Linked DNA regions of Homo sapiens: region 1 is linked to region 2. The links come from fine-mapping of genetic effects on gene expression. A gene starts in region 2. The other region holds a variant in brackets. All regions are shown on one strand. Distances are from middle to middle.

Region 1 (2,893 bases), 100 kb before region 2:
AGACATGCCCTGGTCACCACTGCGGAGACTCAGGGCTGGGGGAGACATGCCCTGGCCACCAGTGGTGAGCCAGCGAGACAGGACCCCACGCGCGCTGACCCGGGGACGCCATGGAACTCACTCGCGATTCCTGCACGCGCGCTGACCCGGGGACGCCATGGAACTCACTCGCGATTCCTGCTCACAGCACGTTTCCTGCTCGAAAACCAGGAGAGCCTCCACGTGCCGACTAGCTCTGTCCACACATCCATTGCGCAGCTCTGCAGCGGAAGGACCTTCAGTAAAGACGCTGGTTTGTAACGAGAGAAGCGTTCCAAAGTGTCACACGACATTGTTTATTACTAAAAGGAGCAGAATTTCTTTTTAATCTTGACAGTGTTGTTTTCGTAACAGTATGATTTAAACTGTTACATTCATTTAGGAAAACTTTTTTTCATTTCATAAGTAATCAAGCTATCTTTCCAGCTTAAAAGCAAAGAAAAAAGGCTCAGGGTAACTTTTTAAACCACTTCATCAATAAGAAAAGTTCTCTCTGTCATTGCACGGCGTGATTGTACACAGTATTAGCAAGCAGTTCACATGCGCCAGGGCCGACTTGGAAGGAAACACAGGTTAACACTGTTTCCTGTCCGAGTTCACAGAGATGTTTGCAGCAGGCTCAGTTGCTTTGGCAGCTGGAGCGAGGGTGCCTCTTCCGCGTGGCTCCCCTGAGCAGAGAGGCCCCTGTGGTTTTTTTCTCCGCCGGGCTCTGGGGACAGGGTTTCTGTGGAAATGGCAAATGGTGCAGATGAGCAGAGTCCTGCTAGAGAGGTCAGCTCAGCGTCCAGGAGGGGGCGCCTGCCCCCGAGGAGGCCACGGACATGCCTGGGAAGTTGCTGCCGGAGAAGTGTGCTCTGATGTGGCTACATTTGGGGACGCGGGCTCCCCAGAGGCCCAAGCGAGAAAGCCGGGGGTTCCCAGGCTGGGGGTGCAGGACGGGCCAGGCACTGCCCTGCAGGGCCCGCCCCCCTGCCCCTGCACCCTCACACCCATCTTCCTCTCTCAGCCTGACCCCAGGGCCTGGGAGCCCCCGGCAGACCGGCCCTCCTTGCCAAACAGTGGCTGCCCTTTATGGACTCGGCGCCTGGCAGAGCCACTGTGGAGGAGGAGTTGGCTGTCATGGTCAGGGGAGGCAGCCCTTGGGTTGTCAAGGTTGGTGGTCAACGTTGAACCCATATCTGCTGGAATCTCCCGGTCTGTTCCACACACGATCATGCGGGAAGCTCTGGGACCCGAAGGCTGTTCTGATCTCGGGGGTCACAAGTTCTCACAGCAGCCTGGGGTCACCAGGGACCAGACCCGGCGTTAGCCTCTGTAAGGAGCTGCCTGGCTGCTGGGCTGAGCTTTGTTGCAGGCCCAGGAAGATGACCAAGAAGGACAGAGCAGAGCCCCATCTACCACTGCTGGGAGGGCC[C/T]GAGGGAGCACGTGCACAGCAGAGCCCCATCCTCCACTCCCTGGGCTCGAAGAGGCTTCCTCGGTGTGGATGGCAGCTGTTAACGAGCAGTGGTGGTGCAGCTGGAGGCCTCTGTCCCATGGGGCACAGACGGGAGAAGGATGGCGGACGGGTGTGCACGCTTGGGAGGACGGGCGGGCGGCATAGGCCTGAGCAGGTGGCATGGGCGCACGAGAAGGGTGTGTCTGAGACAGGATGTTTATCCCAAATGCCAGGAGTGGACGAGGCGGACGAGTGGCAGTGAGGTAGGCATGTGAGGTTGTTGCCTGGCCCACTCTGCCGACCCCAGAAACCCAGCGGCCTGGGCCCAGCACCCGGCTACACATGGGGTGAGCTCACGCCCACACTGTGGCCTGTGCCCGTCACGGGGCTGCTTGCTTCTCCTAGGCTTGGGAACAAGCTGGCATGAACGCTGTGGCCGCATTCACAGCTCAGGCACTTCCACTTTGGGTTTCATGAAGAAACAGACTTAAAGAGCATTTGTTCCTAATGGGTGGGCTGAAGCTTGGGAGGAGCATTCAGCTTCTCTCCACAGTATGGCTTCACCTGTTCCTGAGCGCCCTGCTACCCTCTTGCTAACCTGGGTGGCTGAGGTCCTCTGCTTTGGTGGCGTTGACTTCCCGTCTGCAGCCAGCGCCAGGTGCCAGCCCCCGCCTCTGCTCATCGGGAAGCGCTGGCCTGCAGGTGCTTTGTGGTTGCCACGGACCCTTGTTCTGTCCCTTTCCAGCACCCACCCCCCACGCGCTGTGCATTCCGTAGTTCATTTTCAAGGCAGGGGGCACATGGTGAAAATACAGCCTGGCTTTTTTTCAACAAATGCAGCTGCACTCTTCCTTGCTTGTTTTGAAGGCTGAGCCAGCAACCTCCTTGGCACCTGGGGACAGTCGCTTCCTCAGTTTCTGCGTACCGACTGCCTCACCTGACACGCGGCCTGGGCGCGAGAGAAGCCAACCAGGTGCCTGAGTTGACTGACTCCTTCCGCCCTCCAGCTTCCTCCCTCCGCCCTCCAACCTCCTCCCTCCACCCTCCAACCTCCTCCCTCCGCCCTCCAACCTCCTCCCTCTGCCCTGCAACCTCCTCCCCTCTGCCCTCCAACCTCCTCCCTCCGCCCTCCAATCTCCTCCCTCTGCCCTGCATCCTCCTCCCCTCCGCCCTCCAACCTCCTCCCTCCGCCCTCCAACCTCCTCCCTCCGCCCTCCAACCTCCTCCCTCCGCCCTCTGCCCTCCTCCCTCTGCCCTCCAGCGTTCTCCCTCCTCCCTCCACCCTGTTTCCTCCCTCCACCTCTTCTCTCCTCCCTCCACCCTCTTCCTTCTACCCTCTTCCCTCTGCCCTCTTCTTCTGCCCTCCTCCCTCCACCCTCTTTCCTCCCTCCTCCCTCCACCCTCTGCCCTCCTCCCTCT
Region 2 (2,893 bases):
TGCCCTTGCTGGGTTCCCCAGGGCCGCGGGCCCAGCCTGGCCCTTCCCGCAGGTCTCCGGCCTGCTGTGTCCGACGCACGGAGGCTCTGCTGGGCCCCGCCTGGCTCTGCCCCTGGAAAGCCCCCAACACCCTTCAGCTGGCACAGGGGCACTGTCCCCACCAGGCAGCGGGGCAACCTGTAGCCAGGAGCCGCCGTGGCTTCCAGGGAAGCCCGGGAAAGGCCCCTGGTGCCCACGGCCCAACCGGAGGACGCAGCTCAACTTCCCCAGAGATCCACAGAAGGGGCGCGATCGGAAGCACGTCCCTCCCGCCCCGGCCCGGCCCGGCCCGCGGCACCTACCTCCGTCCGAGTAGGTCTCGGTCCCGTAGCCGTCCTGCAGCCCGTTGCTCCAGGTCCCTTCGTATTTGGCCCCGTTGCCCGCGCACTCCCGCACCCCGTAGCGCCCCTTGAATCCGTGCGTCCACTCGCCCTTGTACACCCACTTCCCCTTGCTCTCCAGGCCGATGCCGTGGCGCTTGCCCTGCGCCCAGGTGCCCTGGTACGTGTTGCCGCTGGGCCAGGTGTAGACGCCCAGCACCTCGAAGCCGTGGCTCCACGAGCCGGTGTATTCGCCTTGGCCCTTGGGGCCGGTGCAGACGCCATGGCCGTGCGCCTTGCCGTCCTCCCAGCCTCCACAGTAGGACCCTCCGTCGTCAAAATTAAACCTGCCCCCACTGGACATGCATGTAACTCGGTTCCAGATCCCGCAAACGGTGAAAACGGACTCAGGCGATCGACACAGCAGAGTCGCGGCCGCCGGCGGCCCTGGGTCGCGAGCGTTTTCCGGAGGAGAGGAGGACGCGGCCCCGGAGCGCGGTCTCGGGCGCGGGCGGCCGCGGCGCCGGCTCCGGAGGAATTTCAGTCAATCGGGGGCGATTATTCCTTTTCGAGCTGCGCCGCGGAGCCTGACCAGCGTCTCGCGCTCCCGCTGGAGACAGGACCGGAGGGGAGGGGGAGGGGAGGAGGGAGGGAGGGGGCAGGAGCGGCGGCGGCGGGGCCCGCGGCTCCACCTCAGCGGCGAGAGGGCCCCTCGCCGGCAGCCCCGCGGGGAGGGCGCCGCGCCGAGGCCGGGCGGGGGGCAGCTCAGGCCCGGGCCGCGGCCCCCCACCTGCGGCTGCCGCGCTGCGGGCGCCCGAGGGCGGCGGCGGGGCCCGCGGGCGGCGGCGGCGGCACGGGCGGCGGCGCTGGCGGCTGCACCATATTGGGGGCCGCGGGCCGGGCGCGGGGCGGCGGCGGCAGCAGCAGCAGCAATGCGGCGGCTCGGGCGGCGGCGGCGGCGGTGGCGGCGGCGGCGTGCGCTCCGGGCCCGGCTCGCGCGCTCGGGCCGCGCGGCGCGCGCCCGCACCCCGCCCGCCCGCGCGCCCCCGCCCGCCCCCCGCCCCCCGCCCCCCGCCCCCGCCCCCGCCCCCGCCCCCGGAGCGCGGCGGTCCCAAGAGGGGCGCGGCCCAGCAGGCTAGGGCGCGGCGCGCGGGCGGGGACCCCGGGCGCCCCGCCCTCCGCGCCCCCAGCCCCGCGCTCCCCGCCCTGGGCTTCCCCGGGGCCCCCGCCGGACTGGAAACCGGGGTCCAGCCGGGGCGCCCCCGCCCCCTCCGGGAGTGGGATTTAAAGGCACAGGAACTGCGTCATGGGAAGGCGCGCAGCACTCAGGGCGCCCTCGGCCCCCTCCCGGGAGCTGGGCGGTGAGGCCTGCAGAGCAGGACCTGCCAGCTGAGCGCCCCTACCCTCGCCCCTGCCCGCCCCCGCGCCTCGCCCCTCCCGCCGGGCTCGGATCTGCCCCGCCTGCCCCTGACTCGACTGAGGCCCTTTGCAAACCACAGGTGGTTTTCTCCGGTGACAAACAATGCTTCCTTCTTCCTTCCGGGCAGCTTGGGTCCAAGAGTGGGGGGAGGGGGGCTTACCCCAGAAAACAGGGATTTGGCGAGTCCCTCTCCCCTATAAATTGAGTGAGAGTCGGGACACACGCGTGTATCTTGGAGCAAAGTCACCCGAATTCCGTGCGCCCTGCGCCCTGGCCAACAGGTAGCGCCCCCCCACTCGGGGAACGGTCGCGCTTTTGGGGAGCAAAGTGGGACCGCCATTCGGGCGTTTCTAGGTCTCTCTCCAGACATACTCTCACCCTCCGCCCCTCTTCCCACGCACAAGAGAGAGTCTGATTCTTGGATCCGAGCATCCTGGGATCCATTTAAAATGCATTTCCTGGACCATAAATCCTCAGGCAGAAGCCGGCGTCCCCAGCCCTCCTGAAATGCGTGCGGGAAATGGCAGCAGACCGGTGCAGTGGGCTGATGGGGGTGTGGAGGCTGCCCAGGGTCCTCGCTCCTGGGAGTGTGGGCCGGTGACCGCAGCGCGGTGAGCCAGAAACTGCAAGCCAGGCCTGGAGCCTGAGATTAGGACAGGAGAAGAGGTGCGATTCGGAGCCTCCAATCAGCCAGGAGCCCTGCTCAGATCTTCCCCTGTCCGAGAGAATCAGGATGGTCCCCACTCTTGGCTCACGGGGCTCTCAGAAAAATCAGCCCCTCCTGGGAGTCCCAGAGTTCAACCTCAGTCTCTTGCCTTGGGCACCAAAGCTCCCTCCCCAGAGTACCAGCAGCCAGGAGGACAGTCACCTCCTCATACACCCACTGTCAATGAGGAACATTTAGGGCGGTCGGCTTTGTTTTGTTTTGTGCAGTTACAGTGATTCATTGAGCTTTCTAGCGCTGTCTCCCTGTGCCCCTCTACAGAAGTTCTCTAAATGTCTGCGGTGGCATCATTGGACCAGCTACGTCTTGGACTTTATTGGAAGCTGCCAAATTGCTTTCCAAACACCTGGAGCAACTGACCTCTCACCCTTCAGTGTGCCTGGGTTTGTG

Direction of the effects. Alleles are on the strand shown, and positions count from the first base shown. SD is a standard deviation of normalised expression in the study named.
With allele C in place of T in region 1, the expression in pancreatic islets of the gene that starts at base 1,362 in region 2 is higher (moderate effect, 0.58 SD a copy in PISA).

What was found. PIP is the estimated chance that this variant, and not a neighbour inherited with it, causes the effect.
Region 1: its variant is the best candidate, but not a certain one, in a credible set for the expression of JPH3 in pancreatic islets (PISA, PIP 0.60).

What each region holds. Positions count from the first base shown.
Region 1 is chr16:87,700,482-87,703,374 of GRCh38, reverse strand. It overlaps a transcript of KLHDC4 not described here. Among named protein-coding and RNA genes, the nearest start is that of KLHDC4, 64 kb to the left of the region's middle. RefSeq lists enhancers at 1-599, 635-884, 1,615-1,664 and a silencer at 1,005-1,064. The variant C/T (reference allele first, on the strand shown) is at 1,454.
Region 2 is chr16:87,600,977-87,603,869 of GRCh38, reverse strand. It overlaps JPH3 (junctophilin 3), which reads right to left and starts at 1,362. Exons shown (of 5, transcript NM_020655.4): 1 at 342-1,362. The coding sequence starts at 723. LOC124903750 (a long non-coding RNA gene) reads left to right here and starts at 1,687. Exons shown (of 2, transcript XR_007065172.1): 1 at 1,687-1,858; 2 at 2,765-2,893. RefSeq lists an enhancer at 2,261-2,823.